2 separate regions of the Homo sapiens genome follow, and region 2 is linked to region 1. Evidence: fine-mapped expression QTL. A gene starts in region 1. The other region holds a variant in brackets. All regions are shown on one strand. Distances are from middle to middle. Region 1 holds the start of GTF2F2 (general transcription factor IIF subunit 2). Region 2 overlaps GTF2F2 (general transcription factor IIF subunit 2).

What was found. PIP is the estimated chance that this variant, and not a neighbour inherited with it, causes the effect. A credible set is the group of variants that fine-mapping cannot tell apart.
Region 2: its variant is the best candidate, but not a certain one, in a credible set for the expression of GTF2F2 in whole blood (INTERVAL, PIP 0.78).

The regions. Positions count from the first base shown.
Region 1 is chr13:45,111,907-45,127,465 of GRCh38, reverse strand. GTF2F2 (general transcription factor IIF subunit 2) reads right to left here and starts at 6,956. Exons shown (of 8, transcript NM_004128.3): 1 at 6,745-6,956. The coding sequence starts at 6,810. LOC101929259 (a long non-coding RNA gene) reads right to left here. Exons shown (of 3, transcript NR_120424.1): 3 at 14,260-15,559. It also overlaps the pseudogene RN7SKP4. RefSeq lists a silencer at 3,535-3,728 and enhancers at 6,041-6,682, 6,793-6,922, 6,683-7,326.
Region 2 is chr13:45,245,590-45,262,105 of GRCh38, reverse strand. GTF2F2 (general transcription factor IIF subunit 2) reads right to left here. Exons shown (of 8, transcript NM_004128.3): 6 at 9,136-9,235. Among named protein-coding and RNA genes, the nearest start is that of KCTD4, 53 kb to the right of the region's middle. The variant T/C (reference allele first, on the strand shown) is at 8,172.

The DNA of each region.
Region 1 (15,559 bases):
TAGTCCCAGCTACTCAGGAGGCTGAGGCAGGAGGATCACTGCAGCCCAGGAGGCAGAGGTTGCAGTGAGCCGAATTCACAGCACTTCACTCCAGCCTGGGAGACAGAGTGAGACCCTGTCTCAAAAAGAAAGACCAAAAAAAAAAGCAGATTGTGCTCCATAAGTTAATGGACAAAAACAAGTTTGCAGCTCATATTGCACTGTCTTCATTATTATAATAAAACTGTAGATTCCCAGGTAAGCCCACCAGCTTATTTAATTCAAAGGTTCCTAAAATACTACACCCTTGCAATAAAAAATAATAATAATAGCACATTAATTATATATAACTCTCTACACCACGAACTTACAGAAATTGGCTTCCCAGAAGTCCCGGCCTATTAAGTCTCAAAAGAGGGAGGGAGAGGAAGAAAAAAATGACAGTATATATGGTTTCAAGGCTCCAAAACACCACTGTCAACATATCACTTACGATGTATCTGTGTTATTTCCACTATCTCACTCATTACTGAAAATCAGATGGAGACAAGGTAATAAGTACAACAGGGTATGGTTGCTTAGATTTCCCAATACCAGAGAAAGTGACAGAAAATAACTCACTACAGCATTATTTCCTCAAGGAAACCTCCCTTGACTTCCTAGACCAGGACAAGTCCCTTGCTATTCACATGCACAGAAACAATATTCCTTGCTTCAGTGTCCTTCTCTGAAAATAATTGTTTTCGTTAAGACCAATATTTGACTGATGTCTGTCTCCTATACTGGGCTATAAGTCGTAGTTTACACAGTATATATACCATGTCCGTTTTGTTCACTGTAACATACTTAGAGCCTAGCAATCACTGAAAGCTTGTGGGATGAATCAATCTGCCCACCCATTCACTCAAACTGGGCAGCATAAGAAAGTGGTTCTTGTCGCTGGGCACAGTGGCTTACGCCTGTAATCCCAGCAGTTTGGGAGGCCAAGGCAGGGGGATCACGAGGTCAGGAGTTTGAGACCATCCTGGCTAACATGGTGAAACCCCGTCTCTACTAAAAATACAAAAATTAGCCAGGAGTCGTGGTGCACGCCTGTAATCCCAGCTACTCAGGAGGCTGAGGCAGGAGAATCGCTTGAAGCCGGGAGGCGGAGCTTGCAGTGAGCCAAGATCACACCATTGCACTCCAGACTGGGCAACAGAACGAAACTCCATCTCAAAAAAAAAAAAAAAAAAAAAAAAGTCGTTCTTCCCTTTGAAGCCAAGGTGCTTCTTTGCCAACTTTGCTTCATCAAATATCTAGTTCCCCAACTGCTAGCCTCTAAAGCCCTGTTTCTCCCAGAAAATTAAAAGCACTGAAGTGGACATCATGATGTGACACCCAGATTCCCCCTTCAGCACTGAGGGCATTATTCCCACAGCTGCTGAGAGTGTGGCCAGCAGACAGCCCTCAGCTATTAGGCCTCTTTGAAATTGCCTCCACTAAAGAAAGACCCCTTGCTCAAGGTCACGCCCACTTACTGGGGCAAACCATATCCACTGACTGGCTGGGACAGGAGGACAGCTCTGGAGGGCTCCTGTGGAATCATCCTGGCTTTTCACTGAGACTGCCTTACATGCTCTACCCAATCTTGCTTAAATCCTTTTCCTTCCATACATGCTGATCCCAAGAGTACTCACTAATAAATCCCTGTCTCCATCTCAAAATCAGCTGCTCAGGGAACCCAATCTATGACATGCAGCATTTATTCCCATGTTTCCTTGAACTTCAAGATACAGAACTGACAAGACCAAAGACATAAAAATGAAGTCCCCACCTCACCTCTGAATCTCTAGGGAGATAACCCATTAAAGAGACACAAAGGGGGCTGGGCACAGTGGCTCACACCGGTAATCCCAGTACTTTGGAAGGCCGAGACGGGCAGATCACGAACGAGGTCAAGAGATTGAGACCATCCTGGCCAACACAGTGAAACCCCGTCTCTACTAAAAATACAAAAATTAGCTGGGTGTGGTGGCCCGCGCCTGTAGCCCCAGCTACTCGGGAGGCTGAGGCAGGAGAATCGCTTGAACCTGGAAGGTGGAGGTTGCAGTGAGCCAAGATTGCGCCACTGCACTCCAGCCTGGCAAAAGAGCGACACTCCGTCTCAAAAAAACAAAAACAAAAACAAAAACAAAAAAAAACAGAGAGACGCAAAGGGGAAAAAAAATTTCTATGGCAAAGCTTTTAGCCTAACAAATTTGAATCACTATTTCCATGCTTAGGCAAGATAATTAACCTCCCTAACCTTAAATTTTATCATCTGAAAAATACAGGTAATTAATACCTACTTTACCGGTTTGCTTTGCAAAATACTCGCTACACAAGAAATGTTAAGTTCCTTTTTCTCCTACTATCTGCAAGGCTTTAGGGTATCACCCATTCCAGTTTCATCTCTCCCTTGTATATAACTTTCTCTTTGGCCACCAATGTCCAAGCGCTTGCCTGTCTGTGAAAAAATGAAAGCTAGCCGGGAAGGGTGGCTCACATCTATAATCCCAGCACTTTGGGAGGCCAAGGTGGGTGGATCACTTGAAATCAGGAGTTCAAGACCACCTTGGCCAACATGGTGAAACCCTGTCTTGGCTGGGCACAGTGGCTCATGCCTGTAATCCCAGCACTTTGGGAGGCCAAGGCAGGCAGATCACGAGGTCAGCTGTTCAAGACCATCCTGGCCAACATGGTGAAACCCCATCTCTACTAAAGATACAAAAAATTAGGTGGGTGTGGTGGCACACACCTGTAATCCCAGCTATTCGGGAGGCTGAGGCAGGAGAATAGCTTGAACCCAGGAGGCAAAGGTTACAGTGCGCTGAGATTGTGCCATTGCACACCAGCCTGGGTGACCGGGTGAGACTCCATCTCAAAAACAAAAACAAACAAACAAACAAAATAAACCCCATCTCTACTAAAAATACAAAAATTAGCTGGGCATGGTGGTCAGGCTGGTCTCCAACTCCCAACCTCAGGTGATCCACCCGCCTCGGCCTCCCAAAGTGCTGCGATTACAGGCATGAGCCACCATGCCTGGCCGCAAAAATAATTTTTTAAAAAGGCCAGTGGGGAGGCCAGGTGCAGTGGCTCACGCCTGTAATCCCAGCACTTTGGGAGGCAGAGGCGGGTGGATCACAAGGTCAGGAGATCGAGACCATCCTGGCTAACACGGTGAAACCCCGTCTCTACTAAAAATACAAAAAATTAGCCGGGCGTGGTAGCAGGCACCTATAGTCCCAGCTACTCGGGAGGCTGAGGCAGGAGAATCGCTTGAACCCACGAGGTGGAGCTTGCAGTGAGCCGAGATCGCGCCACCTTAGATGCTGGGGCTGGCATTGCCCTCAACGACCACTTTGTCAAGTTCATTTCCTGGTAAGACAATGAATTTGGCTACAGCAACAGGGTGGGGGACCTCATGGCCCACATGGCCTCTAAGGAGTAAGACCCCTGGACCACCAGCCCCAGTGACAGAACAAGAGGAAGAGAGAGACCCTCAATGCTGGGGAGTCCCTGCCATACTCAGTCCCCAACCACACTAAGACTCTCCCCTCCTCACAGCTTCCATGCAGACCCCCTGAAGAGGGAGGGGCCTAGGGAGCCCTGCCTTGTCATGTGCCATCAATAAAGTCCCCTGTGCTCAGCCAAAAAAAAAAAAAAAAAAATTCAAAATTCCAGAAATAGCACTTCATTAGGCCAGAACAGTACAGGTCCTGGATATTTTGTTATTTTGGTAAACAATCTACTACTATATTTGTTTTTCCCTAAACACACTATTTATCCCCAGTCCTGCCCGTAGGTTTTGGTTGTTTTTTTTTTTTTCTTTTTAGATAGGGTTTCACTCTGTAGCCCAGCCTGGAGTACAAGGGGTGTGATCTCAGCTCACTGCAGCCTCAACCTCCTAGGCTCAAGTGATCCTCCCACCTCAGCCTCTCAAGTAGCTGGGACTACAAGCGTACACCACCACGCCCAGCTAACTTTTTATAGTTTTTGTAGATAAAGGGTTTTGCTATATTGCCCAGGCTGGTCTCAAATTCCTGGGCTCAAGCAATTCGCCCACCTCGTCCTCCCAAAGTGCTGGGATTACAGACATCAGCCACTGCACCCGGCCTGCCATAAGCTCTTCTTGAAAGCTTCTTTGGAGGTTCTAGCAGGGGAGTACAACCATACATATACCCTTGACTGAAGACCAGTCCTCCTCTATCCGGATGGTCATCCTCTTTGGTCAAGCGTGCAGCTTCGGGAGGGACATACATGGAGCAGTGTGGGAGGAAGGAGACACCCGCCTAGCCAGCCAGATTAGCCAAATCAACCCTAGTAATCAATGGGGTGACAGATGTCCCAGACAGATCACACTCACATCCATTTTTTTTTTTTGAGACAGGATGTCACTCTGTCGCCCAGGCAGGAGTGCATGCAGTGGCACAATCTTGACTCACTGCAACCTCCAAATAGGCTTTTCTTAAACGTCACCTTCTTTATGATGTCTTCCCAGTTCTGGTGAAGCACTAATTTTTTTCCCGCTCAAAACTCTCAGAGATCTTGTATGTATAGTTCTTACTGTATTTACACAGTTCTATACCTGTCTAGTGATGGAATTAAATATGTACAAGATGATCTATAAACCGTGAGATATCCTAGGAAGAAACATTATTTAGCAACAAAGATCAGAACTCAAGGTATTATTTTTAATAGGAAAATTAATGTAAGGAGAAAAAACTTGAAATCAATATGTACTTCAATTCAAATTCTGATTAGATGAGAATGAAGATACACTTTCTAAGCAACAAATTACACTTTTTTTTAATTTATTTATTTTTTTGAGAAGGAATTTTTGCTCTGTTGCCCAGGCTGGAGTGCAACGGAGCAATCTCGGCTCACTGCAACCTCCGTCTCCCGGTTTCAAGTGATTCTTCTGCCTCAGCCTCCCAAGTAGCTGGGACTACAGGCGCACACCACCATGACTGGCTGATTTTTGTATTTTTAGTAGAGATGGGGTTTCACCATATTGGCCAGGCTGGTCTCGAACTCTTGACCTCATGATCCACCCACCTCGGCCTCCCAAAGTGCTGAGATTACAGGCGTGAGCCACCATGCCCAGCCCGATCCTGTGATAATTTTCTAATTGTGACTCTGGTTACCCTCCCCTCTAATTCGTACTGCACACTGCCAAACATTTTTTTTTTTCCTGAATAAATATCTGGCATCTCTACCTCACTCAAATCCTCCAAAAAGTTCGTTACTTCCTTGTAAACTAAAGTTAGAATATCTCCGTTTCATGATATGACAATCTGAGTATATGGTCCCCATCTTCATCTACACAGATCTTCTGCTCTAGGTTCTCTCTGTTTTCCACAACACGCCATGCTGATTATATATTTTGAGTCTTGCATTTCTGTTCCATTCCCCATGGTATACACTGTGTCCACCCATCCAAATCCTGTAAGACAAACATTGAGCATTTACCATGCTCCTAGGACAATGGCACCATCTCAAGTCACACCATTTTTTCAAGCTTTTTCCTTCAGTCCGTAAGGGCAATCTCCTCCTTAGTGACTCTCCCCCCAAGTAACATGCTGCTGGAGAGAGAAATGCCTATTTAATCCATCCTTTTAAGTCACACTGAGTTTGGAAATAAGTCAAATGAGTGCCACAGACTAAGGCGAGGGCTGAAGAATGAGAGGTCATGCATTTATTCATCATCTATTTGTTGAGTAATTACCATGCGCCAAACACTATTCTGGGTATGACAGGCAAAGATCCTGTTCTCATGGAATGTGATTCTGTGTGTTGGAAAGACAGAGGTAACCAACTTTGAACATATGAACACAAAATCACTCTACACTGTGAAAAGTGCTTTGAAGAATGTAATACACATCTGTCGTGTTAGCAAATGATCACAAGGGGGCTGTTTTAGGAAGGCCGACAAGAAAGACCTCTTAGATTTAATTGACGAGAACTCAGCCATGTGATAAAACAGTTAAAGCATTAAGAAACCAAAAGTCCTTACATTTTAAGTTTCAACGACTTTCAGGATCACATTTTGAATATGCTTAAGTATTATGAAACTCCCCTAGGAGAAAACACTCCCCAATATGAAACAATAAAGCACAAATAGTGCTTACTGTGAGCTAACCAAAATTGCTGTCTTCACATAAAACGTTTATTGACGGCCAGTTTCACGAGACCCAAATGTGCTCTAAAAGAATACTCCAGTCCAATGACCTCTCCTTCTGTGAGTTTGGGGCTCTCTCGCCTCTTTTGAGAGCTTCATTAAGGACCATCAACCTAAGAGAACACTTTTAAGAGTAGGCAGGGACCAGTCCTACTTTCTGGCCGAGAAAACTGTACAGAAAGTAGACATTCAACTACCTCACGCAGGCTCATGGCTAAAACCAGTTTCACCAAGGGAAGATACAAGGAATTCTTCAGTCTGGGATAAAATGCACCGTCCAAATCTGGGGACACCAAGACAAGATTCCAGGAAAGCCGTGAGAAAGAGATCTAGTCCAGGCAGATTCAGAGTAGTAACTGGCTGAAAGACACTTTGCGTCCCTAAACTAATTCCTCGTCTGCAAACAGATACAACAATGACTCCTGCCTCTCAAAATGTGTGAAGCTCTAACGAGATAGCCGTAAAAGAACTTTAAGAGGCGCACGGAGCGGGATAGGCTCAAGTTACTTAAACTATACTTGTGTTAGGAGGAGCGCAAGTGGGAGACTCGCGAACATTACCTTGACTAGCCACACTCCTGTGTTCTGTTTGGCGCCGGTCAAGTCGAGTTCCCCGCGCTCGGCCATGGGTCTGCAGCCGGTGGAGGCGTGCGGGATGCAGCAGCGACCCCAGGAGCCGCAGGGCTGAGGAGCGGGCGTCCGGAACAAAGGACAAGCCGCGCTGAGAGGCGAAGAGCCGGCGTTCCTTACCTGCCAGAACACTGGGAACCGAGGAAAAGAGGAACACGCCGCCAGGAGCCGGGACTGCGCCTGCGCACTGCTACGTCAGTACGGCGCGCTGTTGCAGACAAACTTTCTGTTTCGGAAATTTCTTGAGTGGGCGTGGCTGTCCGCGATGTCTGCATCTGAGGGATTAAAACGTAGGGTGGGATGAGCTAAAACGTTAGCAATGTATTTAAAGACATGGTCAGCATAACTGAAGAAAAAGATTATCAGAACGGAAAAATGGGGTTCAAAGAGACGAAAGGTGTCAGAACATGTCCAACCCTAGCCAAGGAGAGAGAGACAATATTTGAAGGACAGGGTCAGGGTAGTAAATTGGCGTCCCTGGCCAACGTCATTAGCACAAATGGGCACTGGGATCAAACTTAGTAGCCTTGGGTATATTGAAAACATGCCGTTTCTAGACCTGGAAAAAAAAAAGCCGTGTTTCAGCTCAGAGGCTACCCGAGCTGTTCTGATGAAGCAAGCGGAGCACCTCAGTTTCCAAAACCCGGAAGTCTGTAACGAAACGAACAAGTAAGAGACAAACCTGATCGTTTCCTCCCCTGCTTAAACAGTTTTCTCTTTCTCTTATTGCCTCTAGAATAAAGTTCAATCCTCCTGCTTCAACTGGGCCCTCTCAATTTCATCTCTTTGCACCTCCCACCATCACTCCGCCATGCACCAAACCACATCAAACCCAGCAGACTTCCCTAAACACGTCAGAATCTTCGTCGGTCATTTCAGAGCCTCTGCACACTGGATTCCCTTCCCTTGGAAGCCCTATTTTACCCCTGCCCTCACTCTCACCCCTGTGCTCTGGTTGGCAAACTCCTACTTATGGTTCAAGACCAATGAAAATGTCACTTCCTATGAGATCTTTTATCAACTTCCCCAGAAGAAATTAGTTTTTCTTCACATCACAGTGTGATACTTAGCACTCTGAACTATAATATATATGTTTACATATCTGCCTTTGCTTTCCAGACAATGAACTCCTCCTAGGCGGAAAGAGCTTTATTGAGGTATAATTGACAAATAAAAAATAGTGCTTTATTCATTTTATATCCACAATGTCTAGCACAGTGTTTAACACATTGTCAGGTTTCAGTAGGCTTTGGGTGAAAGAACATTCGCTGAAGAGAAACAAACAGTAAGGTATTGTTAAGAATGGCAAGTAATTTATTGAATCACACATCAGAGCCTTGCACAAAATTGAGGAAATTTTATGTGTGTTCAGCATAGGGCCAGGAAAAGCTGTCAGAACTCTGCTTTTAGCTAGGAAAACTAATAGGAAAGATGGGAGAGACCAGGAGTGTGTTGAAGATGAAAGTTTCAGGCTAGGCTCAGTGGCTCAACCCTGTAACCCTAACTTTGGGAGACTGAGGTGGGAGGATTGTGTCTGCCCAGGAGTTCAAGGCTACAGTAAGTCATGATCGTGCCATGCACTCCAGCCTGGGTGACAGAGCAAGGTCCTGTCTCTAAAAAATAAATACTAAAAACAAAATTTTTTTGGCCAGGCGCAGTGGCTCACACCTGTAATCCCAACACTTTGGGAGACCGAGATGGGAAGATCACTTGAGGCTAGGAGTTCGAGACCAGCCTGGTCAACATAGGAAGAACCCTATCTCTAAAAAAAAAAGAAAAACAAAAAAAAATTTTTTTAAGCAGAAAATGAAGGTTTCTTCTTGTGCAACAACTTGGAAAAGGGCCTTTTTAAAACATATAAAGAGTAAGCAGATTAAGGGAACTGCTCTAAACTTTAATCAAGGAGAAGGAATAAATTGAAATATGAGACCATGGGAGAAGAGAAGCAAAGTCTAGAGCACCCCAGGAATGGACTTTAAAGATTGGAACCCTGGCTTTGGTCTCTGGGTCATGGGAGGCCTTAAAATGTGTACGTGGTGTGGGTATGTGTGTATGTGTGTGTACACAGAGATTGAGAGAGAAAAAAAATGGCTGATGAAAGGGCTAGCGAAGAACGGAAAAGTGGAGATTTTAAAATGATACATAGAAGAAAGAAAAAAACAACGTATTGAGCACCTCTTCCTCGTACGCTGTTGAACAAAGAGCAAGCTTCTCCTGTCTGTCCTTTTCAAACCCCTTCTAGCTTGAAGAGGGATGTTTACAGAACCCTGATAGAAAAGGAGGGCATGGCCCCTATGAACCAAATTCACAGATTTACTGTGGAGACCCTTAAGGTGGATAGATACTACAGGCAGATCCCTCACCTTCCTAAGGACTCATTATATGCCAGATCCTCAGCTAGTTATTTTCTGTATTATCCCATTTAATCCTTATAACAATTTGCCAGAGTAGGTATTATTTTTCCTCAATATAGCCCTATATGTCATTAAACATATCAACATCCAAGAGCTGAGACCATATCCCAGGATGGGGCTCACAGAGCATAGGATGCAGAAGTCAGTGCCCCAGAGAAGGTAACACCAAAATTTTTTACTCCCTCAGATGATTAACTAGTCAAGTTGTTACCAAAATTTTTAAGGCGCAAATGCAATTCTAGGAAGGAGGGCCCAAGAACTCATTGCTGGCTGCAATTTTTCCAAAAAGTCTGGTAGTGCTTAGGCCAACTTGAACCTCCATCTTTATCTAGGGCTTAGATTCTAGGTCAGACCTCAAGGCCACCCAACCTTCTTTGCTGCTTTGTTTTTGTTTTTGTTTTTGTTTTTAGGCGGAGTCTTGCTCTATCACCCAGGCTGGAATGTGCAATGACATGATCACAGCTCACTACAGCTTGACCTTTCGGGCTCAAGCTATCCTCCCACCTCAGCCTTCCAAGTAGCTGGAACTACAGGTGCACACTACCACACCCAGCTAATTTTTGTATTTTTTGTAGAGACGGGGTTTCACCATGTTGCCCAGGCTGCTCTTGAACTCCTGGGCTCAAGCAATCCACCCACCTCAGCCTCCCAAAATGCTGGGATTACAGGCATGAGCTACCATGCCCAGCCCCAACCTGCTTAATAGGCAGAACTACGTTCTTTTTTGTGTGTCTTCCAGACTAGCTGCAGCAAGAAAAACCCCTAACACCACACCCACCACAAAACATGCTTCAGTCTAGATGAGTGTTCTCAGCCTCTGGTTCCTGTACAAGTTGCATTAGAATTACCTGGGGGAAATGTGTTTTAAAATGAAGACACCTGAGCCCCAATCCAGGCAAACAAAATTAGACTTTCTGGATGTGAGTCTAGAAATTGACACTTTTAGCAAGCTCCCAGAGTGTTTCTTAGGCACACCAAAATCTGAGAATCATTGTTCTAAATGATAGAGTTCTAATCGATAGAATTCTAATCGATATTTTTCTAATCAATATAGTTCATTAGAACTGGGCCAGTTTCCAAAGTCTGAGACACGTGAAAAAATTTACCAGAAAGCCTTACAGCTAGAATTCCCTCATGCCTTGTTAATTCAGAACACCACAATTCTATCAGGTAGCTATTAGAGAATAAGCAGCAAAGCCATTAGGCGAGATGTTACAAGTGAGTTGAGGGAATTAGAATGACTTTAACAGATAGCTGAGTTCACTTTCAGATTTTGTCCTTGTCTATCATACACAGGCCTGATCTCTTCAGGCCAGAGATTTTCTTTGTTCACACTTACTCAGAAACATTCTAGCAAGAAAAAGTATTACCTCCAGGAGAGTTCATATAGGCAAAAAATGCTACCACCAGGTCTTTCTTAATAGACCAGACTCATTACCTATTGGTTACTAACATAAACATTGTCATTCAAAAATTACAAATGAATACAGCATTGTGGTAATTCATTCAATTTCCCTGACATCAGTGATGTAGTAGGTAGATAATTTTGCTTCGTTATGACACCAAGGCTATAAAACGTCTCTGAATTCTCCCTGCCTTTCCCTTCAACCCTAACAGTTCCCTCCTTCATAGAATGCCCAAATTCCTGGGAGATCCCTTGTTTCCCCAGTTACACACAAACAAAAAGAAATACTTCCTAAAATAGTTTCCATATTGTTTAGTATAGAGAGAGAGCATGAGCTTTGGAGTCAAGCTTTTTACTATTTTTTTTTTTTTTTTTTTGAGACAGAGTCTTGCTCTATCACCCTGGCTGGAGTGTAGTGGCACTATCTTGGCTTATTGCAACCTCCACCTCCCAGGTTCCAGCAATTCTCATGCCTCAGCCTCTGAAATAGCTGGAACTACAGGCATGCACCACCATGCCCGGCTAACTTGTATTTTTAGTAGGGATGGAATTTTACCATGTTGGCCAGGCTGGTCTCAAACTCCTGACCTCAGGTGATCTGCCCACCTCTGCCTCCCAAAGTGCTGGGATTACAGGCGTGAGCCACTGTGCCTGGCCAGTCAAACATATTTCCAAGTGATACCTCTGCTGCGTACCAGCCTAATTATGTTAATCTCTCTGCACCTGTTTCCTTGCTTATATAATGGAATTACTATACTCACTTTGTAGAGTTATTATGTGACTAAACGAGAAAACATATTAAAAGAATTTAGCATTATGATGTGGAAATTATTTTGTAACTGCATTAATTATATTGCAGTTATATATATTGCAATTATATAAATAATTGAAAGGAAACACAAAAGTTTTATTATAGGCAGCAGTATACTGGCAAGTGTTTAACAGCTGGGCTCCCTAAACTCCCCTACCCCCAGGAAAGCCCTGATTTGTAGTGTTTGCCAATTTCCATGGTGCAAGTATTTCTGCAATAGCTGATTTCAAGCTGCCAAGAAGAGATCACTGAAGGCAAATTTGGAAGAGAGGCACTGTACATTGTATAGTATATAAACTCTATAGGCCAGGCGCAGTGGCTCACGCCTGTAATCCCAGCACTTTGGGAGACCCAGGCGGGTGGATCACTTGAGTCCAGGAGTTTGAGACCAGCCTTGCCAAAATGGAGAAACCCCGTCTCTACTAAAAATACAAAAATTAACTGGGAGTGATAGTACACCCCTGTAATACCAGCTACTCAGGAGGCTGAGGCACAAGAATCACTTGAACCCAGAAGGTGGAGGCTGCAGTGAGCCAAGATCATGCCACTGCACCCCAGCCTGGGTGACAGAGCGAGACTAAGTTTCAATAAATAAATAAATAAGCTGTATAGTATTGTAATACATTGTATAGTATTTTTCACTAGGTAGATATATTAAATATAATTTAAGAGCACGGATAATAATAAAATACAGAAAATAATTAGGAAGTGATGAGTATTAAGTGTTTATTACCTTTATGTTTAATATTATTTATTTCTTCAGCAGTATTTTAGGAAAAGGAAGTAGCATCTGCAAACCCTGAGGAGGGAAGCCCCTGGTATGTTGGTGTCTGTGGGAGAGAGAGGATGCCAGTGGGCAGGATATAGTGAAACTGTGGCAGTGCCATTGGCTGAAGAGGGAGAGAGTAGCTAGACCATGCAAGGCCTTGGAGACCTTGTACACAGCAAATGTAAACTGGAAGGAGAATTTTTTTTTTTTTTTTGAGACGGAGTCTCACCGTCGCCCAGGCTGGAGTGCAGTGGCGCGATCTTGGCTTACTGCAACCTCCGCCTCCCAGGTTCAAGCGATTCTCCTGCCTCAGCCTCCTAAGTAGCTGGGATTACCGGTACACGCCACCACACCCGGCTAATTTTTTGTATTTTCAGTAGAGACAGGGTTTTACCATGTTGGTCAGGCTGGTCTCGAACTTTTGACCTTGTGATCCACCCGCCTCAGCCTCCCAAAGTGCTGGGATTACAGGCATGAGCCACCATGCCTGGCCAACTGGAAGGTTAATTTAAGCTTTTTTTTTTTTTTTGAGATGGAGTCTTGCTCTTTCGCCCAGGTCAGAGTGCAGTGGTGCTATCTTGGCTCACTGCAAGCTCTCCCTCCCGGGTTCACGCCATTCTCCTGCCTCAACCTCCCGAGTAGCTGGGACTACAGGGCACCCGCCACCAGGCCCGGCTAATTTTTTGTATTTTTAGTAGAGACGGGGTTTCACCATGTTAGCCAGGATGGTCTCGATTTCCTGACCTCGTGATCCGCCCGCCTCGGCCTCCCAAAGTGCTGGAATTACAGGCGTGAGCCACCGCACCCAGCCAATTTAAGCTTGAATATAAAATAATATTTACATTTCCAAAAGATCCCTGTAGTTGCTGTGGAAAAAATGGATTGGAGGAGACCAGAATGAAAACCAAGAGACTAGTTGAGACACTATTTTACTAATCCAAATGGAAAAGGATAGTGGTTTTGATTAGGGAAGTGGTAGTGAAGATGAAAGGAAGTGGATCAATTTGAAAATATCAGAGATAGTTTTAGGAGGCAGAATTGACAAGGCTTTGTAATTCTTTGCTGTATAGCAAAATAGGAACAGGACCATCTACCAAGTGATAACTCAGAACAAGAGAACAAAACAAAACATACACACACAGCATTGCTCCTTCTGGGAGATCAGACAAGACTCTGCATGTATTTTGCCTGATGGATGACATGATTCCGTTGAATTGCTTCTGTTCAGTGCCTTATGTCTGATGTGACATATGGCTGCTGTGACCTGCAAGAAGCCTTCACTCTCAGTAAGTCACTTTAATTGCTCATTAGGTATTGCTGTGGGAATAAAGTGTTAAATAAAGCATGAGAAAATTCAATTCATCATTACTGTATTGAAATCCAATTTATTTTCATATGTAATTTACCAAAACATGTATATCATATTTTATATATTAAATAAAATTATAGTTAGGAAACAGCACTGAAATACTTGATCAAAGTGCCCAAATAAAAACCACAAATAAGAATAAGCCCTAAAATACCATATTAAACAGACAGATCTTCACTAGTGTTCAGATTTCAAAGCCAGAGAAGCCATGTGTGCTGAATATCAATGAGCAATTGTGTCCACATTCCACTAAGGGCAAAAGCTAGGGGCTTCCTTTTTGATGGATTTCCTCCCCAAATACACAAGCATCAGGGGAGGACAGTTTTCACATCCAGGGGTAGGTGAAAATATTAGATAAATATCAATGGGTGGAGTCAAGGAATGTTCAGTTTAAGGACCTTTTCTATAGCTCAAGCTCTTGCCATAGTTTTGTCAACATAATTCACTTCCCTCGTGTGTAAACGACTAAGCTGACATGGTGGCTGTGCTGCATATAAAGCTGTTTGGGGACCATGGTCCTTCCATCTCATATTTTGCCATCCCTGTGTGGTGTCCTTGTCTGCATGGGGGACCGTAATGTCTGCATTTTTCAGCCAAAAGGAAAAGTGAAAGGATAAAAAGAGTGTATATGACTTTGGCCTTTTTTCTTTTCTTTTTTTTTTTTTTTTTTTTTTTTTTACAGTGTGTTTAGATTGGAAGCCAAATAAGGTCCATACATTGTGGTTGGTTTTGATGTCTCTTAGTCCTCTCCTCTCCTTTCTCCTTGCCTTCCCTCTGTTCCCCTTCTCTCTCCTCCTCTCTCTCTGATTCATACACCACTCTCCATCATTGTTGTTGATGAAAAACTAATTTACTTGTCCTATACAGTTGTTGTTGTGTGTGTTTTTTTTTTTTTTGAGACGGAGTCTCGCTCTGTTGCCAGGCTGCAGTGCAGTGGCATGATCTTGGCTCACTGCAACCTCCACCTCCCAGATTCAAGCGATTCTCCTGCCTCAGCCTCCTGAGTAGCTGGGACTACAGGCACTTGCCACCACGCCCAGCTAATTTTTGTATTTTTAGTAGAGACGGGGTTTCACCATGTTGGCCAGGATGCTCTCGATCTCTTGACCTCATGATCCGCCTGCCTCGGCCTGCCAAAGTGCTGGGCTTACAGGCGTGAGCCACCGCACCCGGCCCTGCTATACAGTTTTCTACATTCTAGAGTTTTCTGATTGCATCTCCAAGGTCTCATGTATGATGTTACTTCTTCCCTTGTTTTTTGTTTTTTGTTTTTTTGAGATGGAGTCTCACTCTGTTGCCAGGCTGGAGGGCACAATCTCAGCTCACTGCAACCTCCACCTCCTGGGTTCAAGCACTTCTCCTTCCTCAGCCTCCTGAGAAGCTGGGACTACAGGCATGCGCCACCATGCCCAGCTAATTTTTGTATTTTTAGGAGAGACGGGGTTTCACCATGTTGCCAGGCTGGTCTCAAACTCCTGACCTCAGGTGATCCGCCTGCCATGGCCTCCCAAAGTGCTGGGATTACAGGTGTGAGCCACCACACCCGGCCTTTTTTTTTTTTTTCTTTTTTTTGAGACAGAGTCTCTCACTCTGTCGCCCAGGCTGGAGTGCAGTAGTGCGAGCTTGACTCACTGCAACCTTTGCCTCCTAGGTTCAAGTGATTCTTGTGCCTCAGCCTCCCAAGTAGCTGGGACTACAGGCGCACACCACCAGGCCCACCTAATTTTTGTATTTTTATTAGAGACTGGGGTTTCGTGATGTTGGCCAGGCTGTTCTTGAGCTCCTGACCTCAAGTAATCCATCCACCCACCTTGGCCTCCCAAAGTGCTGGGATTACAGGTGTGAATCTCCACTCCTGGCCTTCCCTTGAGTATTTTCTCAACATGGTAGATTGATTTCAAGGTATGATCAGACTCAGGTTGGATTTTGGTGGAGGGGAAGACTATTTAAGTGGTCTTGTGCACTTCTAGCATGAGAT
Region 2 (16,516 bases), 130 kb before region 1:
GCCACTGCACCCAGCCAGTTAAATTTTTTTTTTTGATAATGTCTAAGACAGGCTCATAATCCAAATTCTGCTCTGTGGTATCAGATAAGTAGTTCCAGTGTATGTGTAATTATCGAAGGGGATTTAAATAATTTCCATGGCCATTAAGTTATTAATAACTTATAGTTAGGACAAAACCAAGGTCACTGAGGTAATTTTTTAAAACTAAACAGTGCAGAAATGGTAATCTTAATACTATATTCACAACTTGACACTACAAATAAAATTAACTGTACAAATAAACTACCAATGATATGAACTATTCTATTTAGGAGAAGATTACAGTTTTGAGATAATGTTATTTCTTCTCTTTTTAGCTCCTTGCCTTTTGGGCATTTTGTTTCTCAGTGGAGCTCAGGCACTGTAAGGAAATGATATTAAAGCAGTCAGATATCTAACTTGTTGGCAGCCACTACAACTCTTAGTAAGACTGGAGTAGAAACAGCTTTTATATTGTGTGAATTTTAATTACCAATCTTCTATCCAATGATCACAGATCACTGCGCAACTGACTATATAGAAATAAATGTCAATTCAGAAAGTACTTTAGTCTTCAGTTACAAATTTTTACCAAAAAATCCATCATATACAATTAATTTTCACAACAGAACACAAATTATTCTTTTTTTTTTTTTTTTTTTGAGATGGAGTCTTGCTCTGTCCCCCAGGCTGGAGTACAGTGATGCTATCTCAGCTCACTGCAACCTCAGCCTCCCGGGTTCAAGTGATTCTCCTGCCTCAGCCTCCCGAGTAGCTGGGACTACAGGCGCGTGCCACCACACCCAGCTAATTTTTTGTATTTTCAGTAAAGAAAGGGTTTCACCGTGTTAGCCAGGATGGTCTTGATCTCCTGATCTCATGATCCGCCCACTGCGGCTTCCCAAAGTGCTGGGATTACTGGCTTGAGCCACTGCACCCGGCCCCCAAACCTTTTCTTTTTTGAGATGGGGTCTCACTCTGTTGCTTAGGCTGGAGTGCAGTGGCGCAATCTCACCTCACTGCAGCCTCCGTCTCCCGTGTTCAAGTGATTCTCCTGCCTCAGCCTCTTGAATAGCTGAGATTACAGGCGTGTGCAACCATGCCTGGCTAATTTTTGTATTTTTATTAGAGACAGGGTTTCACCACGTTGGCCAGGCTGGTCTCGAACTCCAGGAACTACAGGGGCATGCCACCATACCCAGCCAATTTTTAAAATTTTTTTGAAGAGGTAGGTCTGGCTATACTGCCCAGGCTGGTCTCAAACTCAAGGCTGGTCTCAAACTCAAGTGATCCACCCGCCTCAGCCTCCGAAAGTGCTGGGATTACAGGTGTGAACCACCACGCCCAGCCTATTCTTGACTAAAATGCAACCAAATGTTGACAATCCTTTGTGGATTTGGTATATATATGTTCAACCATCATTACTGAAGCTGTAATCACTGACTAAAATTATAAATGCCACCCACTACCAATTAAAATTTATAATACAGACATCTATAAACTTCTAGATTATTGTTTGCAGAAATACTGTGTTTTGTCAAGGCAGTCTTTGTAAAGCCTTTTAACTTTTGAAGTGAGCATGACAGCTTTGAATATCATGGTTCTGCATGTTAAATCCTTATGAGATATTATTCCCCCTCCCCTCAACTAATGCTTCTATTTCTGCCTAGTGTGTCATTATCTCTTGGGAGGAAATTATTTCTTTAGAATTGGTCAGTCCTTTGTGTGCAAATTCAAATGGACAAAGCATGTAGTATACTTATACTATGTATTATAACAGGCAAATATTACTGAAAAGCCCTCATGATATAGTCCTACAAACATCCTTTTTATTTAGGAAAATTCAAATTTATGCATAGAACTTTAAAAGATCAACCACTCAAACCCCAAATCTTAGTTCTGCAGACTAACACAGTCGGCTGCCACACTGAAGGGAACAGAGCATATATGCATAAAAATGAATTTCCTTTCTAGTTCCTGGGGGTTTACCTCAACAACCAGTTTACTAAGTAAGCTTTTCTTTTTTTTCTCTTACCCATCTGAGCACAGTTAAGGTTTTCGAGTTCTTTCTGGCCAAGAGCTTTTACCAGAAATAAGAAAAAAAAAAATGAGAGAGAGAAAACTTATTTTTTCAAACTGTGGGGCAGAAATTCTAACAAAGAAAAGAAATATTAATTCTTTTTAAAAGTTCTAGGTTTGGCCAGGCGCAGTGGCTCACGCCTATAATCCCAACACTTTGGGAGGCCGAGATGGGTGGATCACATTGGCCAGGTGTGGTGGCGGGCGCCTGTAGTCCCAGCTACTTGGGAGGCTGAGGCAGGAGAATGGCATGAATCCGGGAGGCGGAGCTTGCAGTGAGCCGAGATTGTGCCACTGCACTCCAGCCTGGGCAACAGGGCGAGACTCTGTCTCACAAAAAAAAAAAAAAAAAAAAAAAAAAGTTCTAGGTTTGCGAGAAAGAGGTTTCCTTCTAAGTACCATTACTGAACACCCCACCCTCAACAGGAGATGGCAGAACTATAAAAAGTTCTCATCTCTTTGGTTCAGTGGCTGCATACTAGAATTACCCAAGAAGCTTAAAAACTTAAGATGGCTGGCCTCCCCATTAGATTAACCAAATCAGTTTCTGAGGGTATTTTTCTGTTTTGTTTTGTTTTTTTTGAGATGGAGTTTCGCTCTTGTTGCCCAGACTGGAGTGCAGTGGCATGACCTTGGCTCACTGCAACCTCCGCCTCCCGGGTTCAAGCAATTCTCCTGCCTCAGCCTCCCAAGTAGCTGGGATTACAGGCATGTGCCACAATACCCAGCTAATTTTGTACTTTTAGTAGAGACGGGGTTTTACCAGGTTGGTCAGGCTGGTCTCGAACTTCTGACCTCAGGTAATCCACCTGCCTTGGCCTCCCAAAGTGCTGGGATTACAGGTGTGAGCCACCGCACCCGGCCTATTTTTCTTCTTTAAAAGCTTCCCAGGTGATTCTAGTATACAGCAACACCGAAAACAAATGTCTAGACAACAGAGGACATGATTCCTTATGAGAAGAAAAGGAATTCCTTATGAGAAAGTTTATAAGAGGCCATGAAATACATAAAAGAATGCTATGAAATTTACATAGGCTAGATACGATGTTCACAAAGTCAACCAGAACACACAGAGTCGCCCTTACTTGGATTCAAAGTTGGAGGGAGTTGCAAAGAACCTTACGCATCAGCTGACTCTATAACTTTGATTATACACCTTTGTGAGCAAAAAATTAAAAGCATGAGCTATGCATATATCTTTATAAACTGGACAAACGTACTACTGTATTTATAAATAGATATAAGCATACACAAGATAAAAAATTTTAAAGGGATGAAAGAGTATAATTTTAAGAGTAAGTTTTGTCAAAACTACAAAATACGTTTTCGTTTTGCTCTCAAAATACAGTGATTTGCATTCATGTTCTGTATGCTTAGTTTTTAAATACATTGAACACCGTGATAGCTTTGTATCAGCAATAGCTAAGCTAATATAACAAGGTACAACACTCACAAAGGTCAAGGGCCACTTTGCCAGTTATTTTGCAACAAGTCTTCAACTCTAGCCTTGGTGGTAAGGGTGGGGTGGCAAGAGGTCTGCAGGCTACATTTCCAAGATTCCCTTGCTAGCGGGTTTCCAGCTGGGGTTCTGCCAATAGGAGAATGAAAGTGGGAGGGAGGGAGATTTTTCTTCTTTTTTTTTTTTTGTATTGCAGGAGCACCTCTGCAGCAGCTTCCTGATCTCTTCTTCCTTTTGCAACTCCAGCCCATCCATTTGGTATTCCTAAATCATTTGTAACTAACTCCCTACATTACATTCTTTTCTGCTTGGAATATCTAGAGTTGTTTTTGATTCCACCATAGACACTAACTGAGTCATCATTAAAGACAGGGCATGACAAGCCATATTTAAAATGATACTGATAATTTCCTTTTTGGAAGGGCCAAGTTCTTTTCAGATCTGATTACATCATCACTGTTTGTCACCTCAAAGATTGACTGATAAACCATTTTTAGAAGCAAGAGAAGTTCAGTTTTTCACTTTCTTGTTCACATATGCTTGGTTTATTAGTATTATCTCTAATTGACAGTTTCTCTGCAGAAATCATTTGTTGAGACTGAGTTTAGTTAAAAATAGATACTATAATCTGTAAATCTCTGAATTGAGCACCAATGCTAAAAAGCTGAAAGCAAATGAAAACATGAAGGCACAACGCTCAACCCCTCTGTCCTGTCCCATTTCCGCTCTTCTGCTGAAAAACGACCGACTAGCACAGGAGCTGCAAAAAGATGCCAGGGTCAATCTACATAGTATTTCTAAAGCTCAGTTTCTTTCCTTTACTAGGTGCCAAACAAGATACATGTAAGTTTTATAATAATATAAATATAATAATTTTCCCCCTCACCCAGTGGGCCCTCTTGTAAACCATACTTTGACATCTCCATTATTTCCCAATGTCTGTTTTCACTACTTCAAACAATGGGGGGAAATTTGATGTTCAAATGTTTGTAAGTGCAGGATTAAACAAATTCCTAAAGCTTACTAATCTTGAGTATATTAAAGTGAAGTGTCAATTTAAGAGGAGGATATAATCAGAAACTACAAGTTTTTTAAACACAGAATCCTTTTTATGTGACCATCTCACCTAGTTAATGTTACAAAAAATTTACTGTGGAAAATGCTGACCTACATGAACTGATTCAAGTTTCAGACACTCAATGAAGATTTAAGGTACAGGAAATGCCACTTAGGGAAAAAAAACCTGACATGTCATATCCTAGTAAGAAGATGGTTTTCAGGGGTGCGATTTCAATGGAGTATTCTAAGAGATAAAAATAATCATATAATTCTTTTTGGCCCAGTAGATGGTTTCTGAATGGCAAGTATGACAGACATTATACCCAGATAGTTTGTGAACTAAAAAGATAAATCTGAATTTAATTCTTAGAATAGCTCCAAGAACAAAATTGGATATTTTCTTTACATATATACAGGTAAATTCATCTATTTGCCATAGGTGGGTGAAAAAACTGTGGGTAAATGCAAGGTAGTTTCTTTCTGACCAAATGTAGGAACATTGTTTTTCAAATACATATGCAATTTCCCAGTCCCTCTTTCACTTTTTTGTACAAATTTTTTTTGAATTTTTATTCTGAAAATTGCATTCAAAGAAGCTCAACTGTTAGAATGAAACACTGAGCTTCATGTTTATATAACTTTATCTGGCAAGACTTTCAAAACATTTCAACATTATATCGAGTTAAAATTTTTTATTAAAAGTCTTTATTATGCTTCCTCTAAATCATTCTTGCTGACCTGTGTTCGTTTATGTTTCTCAGTCTTTTAAAAGTCAATGTCCTCTTCTAATAAATAACAAAAATGTTATACTCTTTCTATAGTTGGTATTACACTACAATACTGAATATGTTTTTTAAAGCTATGCAGGTGCCTATCCTGGTTTACTCCCAAAAGAAATAATGATTAAACATTCAAATGCAATGTGGTAGATTATAGTCAATCTTTGTTTGGATGTAAAAATCTTAATCAAAGATTCATTACTATAATGACTCATTTTCACTATGACAACCTTAACAAAGGTTGATATCTTGAACTAAAATGTCACTTAATGTTAATTATCTTTATAGAGGGTGCTATAGCTTTATATACTAAGGAGTTCAGAATATAACATGTTTGTACTTACTTTATTCACCAGGGGTATGTATCTCAGACACGAAGCAGATATTTAAAAAGTACTTGTTTAAAGAAGGTAAATCTTAGACAATCAGTAAGGTACTATTATGGCTTTCTTCCCTGGCTTTCTTTCCTTTCCAATCTTCCCCTTCCCAACATAACTTTATTGCTTACCAACAATTCAGGCAATACGTGCTCACTGTGACAATTTCAACAATTGGAGAAGATTTTATAAAAAAGAAAATTAGGATAAAATCACGTAGATCCTACCATCCAAAAATAATGACTTAAAATATTTATTTAATGAATCCCCAATTTGGGACACTTGTTTCCAATCTTTTCCTATCTTAAATAATAGAGAGAAGCATTATTGTATATATATCATTGAGCACTGGTCTCACTATAATAAATTCCTAGACACAAAACTGCTAGGTCAAAGGATATATCCTTTTATAGTGCATTTGACATAAATTACCAAACTTCCCTCTAGAAAGGTAACAACTCTTTACAGCCTATGAAAGTGCAGTCTTTCTTGTACCCACTGTAATAAAAATATACACAAGGGTAGAAATCACAGAGAAGCCTGGCCCATAAAAGGATAAAAAAGGTGAGTCAGGAGCTACAGAAGCAGCACACCAATGAGGAAGAAAGGCAAAAACAACTAAGATCTATACTGTTTTACAAAGTAGAATAGAATCTCTATTTACACGTAGCTCTCAGAAAACTGTGTGTATTCCCATCCAACAGTAGAAAAGACTACAATGGAAGAGAACAAAGATGTGGACTTTAATCTATTTATCTAAGTCAGAAAACAACAGAAAAATACCTCTTCTGGATCATCTGAAACCTTACCTGTCCTTTAGTTTATTTTCCTCCTAAAGCATAACCAGAGGCTATAAAATGAAAGCTTGGCTGAATGCAGTTGAACTTTTACCTGGTTTGTTTAACTCACATAGTGTAGCAATTTCAAAATGTGAATGTATTTATATGGGTCATGTGCACTCCAGTTCACACAGTCTCTAACACTGACTTTCTTAAATTTCATTGTTCCACTCATTTAAGATATCTACTTAGCCCTAGTGGCATTTGCTACTTTCATATAAAATAACCATTCAAATATCATAAAGTAGTAGTTTGGTAGATGCTATCCTGTGTCACTTAATAAATGTTGATACTAAAGGCTAGTCTTTTTTTTTTTTTTTTTTTTTTTTGAGACAAAGTCTCACTCTTGTCCCCCAGGCTGGAGTGCAATGGTGTGATCTCGGCTCACTGCAACTTCTGCCTCCTGGGTTCAGGCGATTCTCCTGCCTCACCTCCCGAGTGGCTGGAATTACAGGTGCCTGCCACCACTCCTGGCTAATTTTTGTATTTTTAGTAGAGATGGGGTTTCACCATGTTGGCCAGGCTGGTCTTGAACTCCTGACCTCAGGTGATCCACCTGCCTTGGCCTCCCAAAGTGCTGGGATTACAGGCGTGAGCCACCGCACTCTGCCAAGGCTAGTCTTAAAGAAAATTTTCTTCCTAAACTCAGTATCAAAGGTAATCTTAAACAACAAAGTGGGATACAAAATTCCAACTGTTAATTGCTATTTGACTTAACTTAGGTATTTTATTTTCAGGAAACCATCACACTTATTACATTACAGATATTTCAAAACCCAAAACCCTTAGCCCTTTTAGCAACTGCTAATCACCAGCGGCAACATACACAGTGGTTAACAGTATGGCTCCTAAGCTAGACTGCCTAAGTTCAACACCTGGACTGATAAATTACTGGCTGCACCACCTCAGGTAAGCCAGTCTCTCTGCCTGTTACCTTATCTGTTGTAGTTTCTTCATAGGGTTGGTATGAAGATTAAGTGTCATTACTTACGAAGCACTCAGACCAATACCTGGCACAAAGTATACATAATATGTATGCAATAAATGTGTATATTGTATAATACATATAGTACATATAAGATACACAACAATAAAAAAGTCTTGAAATATAAATATACAATACTTTCCCCTTATTGGCAGGAGATATGTTGCAAGACACCTCCCTGCCCCACTTGGTGCCTGAAATTGTGGATAGTACCAAACTCTATATATTATGGTTTTTCCTATACATACATATCTCTGATAAAGTTCAATTTATAAATTAGGCACAGTAAGAGATTAACAAAAATAACCCATAATAAAATAGAATAACCCTAACAATATACTGTAATAACAGTCTGTGAATGTGGTCTCTCTCTCTCTCACTCTCTCAAAATATCTTGGTGTTCTGTACTCACTCTTCTTCTTTCTTTTTTTTTTTTTTTTTGAGACGGAGTCTCGCTCTGTCACTCTGTCACTCAGGCTGCAGTGCAGTGGCGTGATCTCGGCTCACTGCAAGCTCCGCCTCCCATTCTCCTGCCTCAGCCTCCCCAGCAGCTGGGACTACAGGCACACACCGCCA[T/C]GCCCGACTAATTTTTGTATTTTTAGTAGAGACGGGGTTCACTGTGTTAGCCAGGATGGTCTCGATCTCCTGACCTTGTGAACCGCCTGCCTCGGCCTCCCAAAGTGCTGGGATTACAGGCGTGAGCCACCGCGCCCAGCCTCTTCTTTCTTTTTATCATGTGTCAATAGATCTGTTAACCAAGAGGGCTACTAAGTGACTAATGGGTGGGTAGCATATACAATGTGGATATACTGGACAAAGGAATGACTCACATCATGGATGGGATGGAGCAAGATGGTGCTAGGTTTCATCATACTACTCAGAAGGTTGCACAACTTACAACTTATGAATTGTTTACATCTGGAATTTTCCATTCAATATTTTTGACTGTAGTTGACTGTGGGTCACTGAAACTGCATAAAGTTTTAAAATTGTGGACAAGGGAGTACTACTGTACAGATGGTCCTCACTTTGCATGGTAGTATGAGACCATTAAAATGCCTGTGAAAGCTGAAATCAGGCAAAGTGATCTTAATAATCAATGAGAAAAATTACTGCTGTTCCATGACCTTTAAAATTTTTTAACACATTAAAAACTTTCTTATGGTTCATCACAAAGGTATAGAATAATTTTTAAAAATAGTAAAACTAATATTTAGTTAGTACATTGTAATTTAAAACATCAGCAACATTGCAACATTGAGAATTGAAGTGTTTTACTTCTTTGTAAAAATTTATCAAGGGTACTTTAAACAGTGGTTGCCTTCTTTTTGCCATGATATAACTTGCAATGTAGAGTGAACATCTTTTCTGTACTTTTAGCAAATTGTCATATTCCTTACTAAGTCCAGATCAGGTACTGTAATTCAAGCACCTGATGGCAAGGTGTGTAAATTCTCAGGTTCTTTGGAAACCTAAGACTCTATGATACAGAAAAGAATGAAGATATAAAAGAATGAAAAGAGACAAGCAGAAGACTTACATTGTATTGATGATTAGCAACAGGTTTGTAATTGGTTGTTACAACTTTGTCCAGCTGTTGTGATAGCCTCACTGGTTTGGAAGACTCTTCTATTTGCAATCTGAAAAAAAATATAAGGCATTATTAACACTCTTGTTTAGCAGAGTGAAATATGAAGAGTTATTATTTCTATAATTCTTATTCAATGAAAACTAATATATAAAAAGGTAACCTCAGAGGATACACTAGCTTTAATACTTTAAAAATGCACTGAATATACGTGACTATAATGCAGAAACCAGTACACAAGCTAAATATACAAACTAACTCATTATAATGCCACAATGTACTTTTCACCCGCTTATTATATAGGCAAATCTTAACCACTAAAACCAAGAAGCTAATCAGCCTTAAATTTCTGGGGGAAAAAATCTTCATGTAAAAATAAATCATCTTAAATTACATGGTCTAAAATCAATCAAGTTATTAATTCAAAATGTCTACTCAGCTGATAAAAGATAAAGGTAAATAAAAAGAGAATACATCAACACTCAAGGTTTACTGAACAGCACAGAGAGAGAACATTTCTATCATCACAGAAACCTCTATTAGACAGCACTGCTCTAGAACTACTGCAGGACACCATCTAAACTGATCCTGTCTCTACAAAAAATTAAGAAAAAAAAAAATTAGCCAGGCACAGTGCCTGTAGTCCTAGTTACTCAGGAGGCTGAGGTGGTAGGATCACTTGAGCCTGGGAGGTCGAGGCCACAGTGAGCTGTGACTGTGCCACTGCACTCCAGCCTGGGCAACAGAGAGAGACCATGTCTCAGAAAATAAAATATAACTCAAAACACTGCTTTTGAAAATATATGCCACCATGTATAGTATATTATAAAACAATAGCTGACTAGTACATGTATATTTAAGTAGCTATCTTAGGATATTTTGTTTTATATTAAGTATAGCAAGGCTTATAATCATTTACTTATTTAGAAAATTAATTCACTTGGTATATCAGCACAGTAAATTTAAAAAACTGTTTTAAGGAAGGAAAAGTACAGCTTTCTAAGCCAACTATTTTTAATGATGCAAAAGTTATCACTGTACCTTTTAAACTCATCAGCAAGATATCAAAATATAAGATTGCAGTTTTTTAAGAAAATTGCCTAACATATCTAGTTAGATTACAATTGAAGAGTAAGTGTAAAACATAAGCATTTTTGGACAAAAGCTTATGTTTATTATTTATAGATCCTCACTGAGAAACTACTCAAGAATTTATTTCAGTAAGAAGGAAAATGAATCCAATAGGAAGCAGTGAGATGCAATGGTTACAGCAAAAAAATTGAAAACGATGTTAGAAAATTGCCTTTAATTAAAAAAAAAAGGCAGTTTTTTTAAATGGTGAAACTAACATGAAAGATGGGAAGGAAGAGATCAGACTGGATGCATTTTAAGTTTGTTTTCTAAATGTTCTGCAATAAGTATTTACTACTTTTATAACCTGAAGAAGTACACTTTCTTAAAAAGAGAAGAAATACTATAATTCCTTGGATGGTTCATTTGAAAACCACAAAAATGCTGGCTATTAAAAAATAATACAAGTTTAACATTATGTATTATTTTATTTGAATGGGACTTTAAATTCTTTGGTTCAATAAAATAGAAATTAAAAACAATTTCCATTTTAAATTCCTTCAAAAGCAGAATTAAGTATAAAAGGTGTCTGTATAACATTCCTATTATTTAATTCCTTGGATGAAGATAATTCTCTATTTACTTCTGCTTATTTTCAGGTATATACTATCAAATTGCTGAGAAGATATAAGATATTTACCAATTGCCTTTTCAATTTGAAATCTAAAAATGCCATAGGTTTTGTTTTTACCAAGATCCCCAAATTCAGTATACTCATTTCTGTATGGAAATGTAAATATTTAAATTATTCCAGTTACATATAAATCCATGCTTATCCTTTAAATACACAAGATGATTTACTTTATAAAGTACAAAAAGTTCTCTGGAAGTGTCTTTAGAAACTTACTGGATATGTAACCATAAATAATACTTACAATTATACTTTGCTTTTCATGTGCCACACAGAGTTTCTATGAACAAGGATTAAATTTTCTTGCTAAGACTGAGAAATCAACTAGCTAGAGTCTAGAAGGGAGATGTGCAACCCAAGGATGGATTTAGATTAATGATTCTTCGATGGCCTCTTACTATTCTCGGGGTGCAGCACAAGTTCCTTCATAGGACTTTAAGACTCTTTGGGATCTAGTCCCTGCGTATCTCTCCAGTTCTCCTTACCATTCTCCTGTATCTGCCTCTGGCTGCAGCTGTGCCACAGCCAGACTCTGGAAGGAGCCTCTTGCTGTCAATTATCCAGCAAGTGTTTACTGGGTACCCACTTCTGCCAGGCACTGGGTTAGAGGTTGGAGACATAGCAGTAAAGACTTGCTCTAGTGGAAGACAAGCATTTAATACTATAATTAACTGCAGTACTGAAGATGAACAAGGGTGATGGAGGGATGGTAGGACAACTGACTGCATACTGATAAAAAGAAAATATTAATCCCAAGGTGTGCATTTTGAGAGTAAACTGGAGCAGAGCTGCTCATGCTTATAAGAAATAAGGCAGGCTGGGTGTAGTGGCTCACACCTGTAATTTGGGAGGTGGAGGCAGGCAGATTACTTGAGGTCAGGAGTTCAAGACCAGCCTGGGCAACATGGTGAAACCCTGTCTCTATTAACAATACAAAAATGAACTGGGCATGGTAGTGCATACCTGCAATCCCAGCTAGTCAGGAGGCTGAGGCTCGAGAATCGCTTGAACCCAGAAGGTGGAGGATGCAGTGAGCCAACATCGTGTCACTGCACTCCAGCCTGGGTGACAGAGAGAGACTGTCTCAAAAAAAAAAAAAAAAAAAAAAAGAGATAAGGCAAAAAGATTAGGTGGAAATGATTCCTCCAAGGAAAGTTATGTCAAAGCTTCTAAGAGATAAACCTTTAGAGAGAGAAAAAAGATTGAAGACAGATATAGGAATGTTTACAAAGTGTCGGGACAGCTAAATGTGTTAACTTGGTGGGGGATGGGAGTGGGTGGGAAACACAAGTAAGTGTCAGCCTGTTTCTGAACACACCTGTGTCCTAATCTTGGCCCCCCATCCTCCTCTAATGCAATCAGCTCTCAGGGGTTTGGCCTCTCTAAATGGTAATCTGTTATGTTGCCGCTAAATTATCTTCCCTGTTTCAGTCATCTCCACGATTTGATCTTATGAGACATCCAAGGAAGGAGGCATGCACTAGCTCCTTCCTTCCATATTAAATGATTGTTCCCATTACTTCACAATTTGAAAATTCCTCAGGGTTTCAGTTTGTTTAGTGAAGTGCTTCTTTATAAACGGTAGCTTATTCTGGTCACACTCTTACACTTGAATTTATTTGTAGCCACTGCATCCAGACTCAGGTTTATGCAGCATACTTTCCTTTCAATTTTAATTCTACAATTCTAAAAGCCAATTTCATCACTCATACAGTGTCATGCAGTTTTTATCCTCAAAGCATTTAACCTTTTACATAAAGGAAAACACTGATTTTTTTTTTAAAAATAAACTCATTTTAAAAATTTAACTGTTCTATCATACATTTAAAAGGCAACCACAAGGGTTTTAATTAAAAGAGGACAACTTATGATTCAAAACTAAAAAGGTTAATGTATGAACTGAAAATATAACAAAGAACTAAATCTTAAAATACTTTAACTCGCTTTGAATCGTTTAAAATAATTTAGCAGGGTCCTTAACACTAAATAATTCATTTAACACTATCTCATGAAGTGACAAGAACAACTGGCAACTCCATTTCATCACTGAACAATGTACTAAATTAAACATTACTGACCTTGATATGCTTTCAAAGTCAAGGTAAGGTTTATCTAGGTTTGTACAAAATAATATAATTTGGAAATATGTGGTTCGTAAAGCACCACATATTTCCAAACAAACTACACAGAGGTATTAGGCTGACTTGGGAGCAAGCTAAAAGGCTACCCTGACCATTTTAAAAAATGAGTCTCCACTTTTTCAGAAAATTTAAAAATACAGTGTTGTTTTCAGGAAACAAATAGAAAAATAATGGCTGATCACTTAGATACAGCCAGGCTACATTTTACTTTGTTTTGTAAACCATTAAAAAAATACTTGGTGCTGGCTGGGAGTGGTGGCTCACGCCTGTAATCCCAGCACTTTGGGAGGCAGAGACAGGTGGATCACCTGAGGTCAGGAGTTCAAGACCAGCTTGCCCAACATGGCGAAACCCAGTCTCTACTAAAAATACAAAAAAATCAGCCGGGCATGGTGGCAGGCGCCTGTAATCCCAGCTACTCAGGAGGCTGAGGCAGGAAAATTGCTTGAACCCAGGAGGCAGAGGTTGCAGTGAGCTGAGATCGCGCCATTGCACTCCAGTCTGGGCAACAAGAGCGAAACTCCGTCTCAAAAACAAAAAACAAAAACCAAAAAAACAAAACACACAAAAACAAAAACAAAAAAACAAAAAACAAAACAAAACAAAAAAACACAAAAAAAACTTGGTGCAAATTCAGAATATAAATATATATTCTTCAAATGCCAGGACTAACCATGCCTTCTGGTGTTCCCCATAGACATAGAGAAAGTGCTTGGAAACATACAGTACATCTATAAAATAATTGCTATTCTAGTCATAAATCACGCATATCTATTTGTCACAATGTAAGACTATTAAGTATCAAGTAACAAATTTAGTCAAGCTTGAACTAGTATTCATTCTAATGAAATAAAACTCCATTTATTTAAAAAAATCAGGCCAGGCACGGTGGCTCACGCCTGTAATCTCAGCACTTTGGGAGGCTGAGGTGGGCAGATCATGAGGTCAGGAGTTCGAGACCAGCCTGGCCAACATGGTGAAACCCCGTTTCTATTAAAAATACAAAAATTAGCCAGGTGTGGTGATGCACGCCTGTAATCACACCTACTCAGGAGGCTGAGGCAGGAGAATTGCTTGAACCCAGAAGGTAGAGGTTGTGGTGAGCTGAGATGTCTCCACTGCACTCATGCCTGGGCAACAGAGCGAGATTCCATCTCAAAAACAAATGAACAGACAAACAACAACAACAACAAAAACTGCAATTTTAATTTTAGGTAACTTCAGAATGGTATTCTTGGAAATTCAAGTTGGTGAAGCTTGAAAGTAGTCCCTAAATTATTTGCCTGAGTTATAACATCAAAAACACTAAAAATAAAATACAGGATACAGGTGGCCGGGCACAGTGGCTCATGCCTGTAACCCTAGCACTTTGGGAAGCTGAGGCAGGTGGATCATGAGGTCAGATCGAGACCATCCTGGCCAACTCGGTGAAACCCTGTCTCTATTGAAAATACAAAAAATTAGCTGGGTGTGGTGGCACACACCTGTACTCCCAGCTACTTGGGAGGCTGAGGCAGGAGAATTGCTTGAAGCCAGGAGGCGGAGGTTGCAGTGAGCTGAGATCCGGCCACTGCACTCCAGCCTGGGTGACAGAGACTCCATCTCAAAAACAAAACAAACAAACAAAAAAACCAGGTATCTGTCTAACAGAATAGCTTATATTCAGGAAGCTTAATTTAATTTGAGACAGTCTCTCTCTGTCTCCCAGGCTGGAGTGCAGTGGCGTGATACCAGCTCACTGCAACCTCTGCTTCCCAGGTTAAAGCGATTCTTGGGATTACAGGCATGCACCACCACACCTGGCTGATTTTTATTTTATTTTTTGTATTTTTAGTAGAGACAGGGTTTTGCAATGTTGGTCAGGCTGGTCTCGAACTCCTGTCCTCAAGTGATCTGCCCGCCTTAGCCTCCCAAAGAGCTGGGATTACAGGCGTGAGCCGCAGTGCCCAGCCAAGAAGCTTAACTTTTTTTTTTTTTTTTTGAGACAGAGTCTTGATCTGTCGCCCAGGCTGGAGTGCAGTGGCGCTTATCTCGGCTCACTGCAAGCTCCGCCTCCCGGGTTCACACCATTCTCCTGCCTCATCTTCCCAAGTAGCTGGGACTACAGGCGCCCGCCACCACGCCAGGCTAATTTTTTTGTATTTTTAGTAGAGACGGGGTTTCACCGTGTTAGCCAGGATGGTCTAGAGCTCCTGACCTCGTGATCCGCCCGCATTGGCCTCCCAAAGTGCTGGGATTACAGGCGTGAGCCACCGTGCCCAGCCAATGAAGCTTAATTTTAAAGTGAATTTACACAGAGTAAAATCTAGGAAGGCAAGTAGGAAATATATGGACTGTCGTAAGTATTTTAAATCCTAAGATTAATGAAAAATCAGAGAATTTTTGAAGCAAGGAATTAAATTTGTGTTTTAAAAATATTCCTCTGGCTACTATTTGCAGAATAGAATGGGGCAAAAATGGACATCACTGACTAGGAAAGCTACTGTACCAATCCAGAGGAAAGATAATATTCACTTGGAACAGGGTGATGGTAAAGGAGTGGGACTCAAGTTAAACAAATTTAGGAAATATTTTGAAAACAGATTCAATAGAAAGTGGTGCCTAAGTAAGATAAAGGAGAAATAAAGGCATCAAGAATAACTGGGCTCAAACAATATGATACCACCTTACTCCTCCAAGAATGGCTATAATTTAAAAAATAAAAAAATAGGCCGGGCGCGGTGGCTCACGCCTGTAATCCCAGCACTTTGGAAGGCCAAGGAGGGCGGATCACGAGGTCAGGAGATCGAGACCATCCTGGACAACACGATGAAACCCCGTCTCTACTAAAAAAAATACAAAAAATTAGCCGGGCATGGTGGCGGGCGCCTGCAGTCCCAGCTACTCGGGAGGCTGAGGCAGGAGAATGGCGTGAACCCGGCAGGCGGAGCTTGCAGTGAGCTGAGATCCGGCCACTGCATTCCAGCCTGGGCGACAGAGCGAGCTCCGTCTCAAAATAAATAAAATAAATAAATAAATAAATAAATAATAGATGTTGGCGTGGATGTGGTGAAAAGGGAATACTTTTTTTTTTTTTTTTTGAGATGGAGTCTCGCTAGTCGCCCAGGCTGGAGTGCAATGGCGCAGTCTGGGCTCACTGCAAGCTCCACCTTCCAGGTTCACGCCATTCTCCTGCCTCAGCCTCCCGAGTAGCTGGGACTGCAGGCACCTGCCACCACGCCCGGCTAATTTTTTGTATTTTTAGTAGATACAAAAAAGAGTGGATACAAAAAAGAGTGGATAAACAAAATGTGGTGTGTGTGTGTGTGTATGTATATGTATATATATATATATATATATATATATATATATATTCACACCATGGAATACTACTCAGCCATAAAAAGGAAGAAAATAATGGCACTTGCAGCAACCTGGGTGGAGTTGGAGA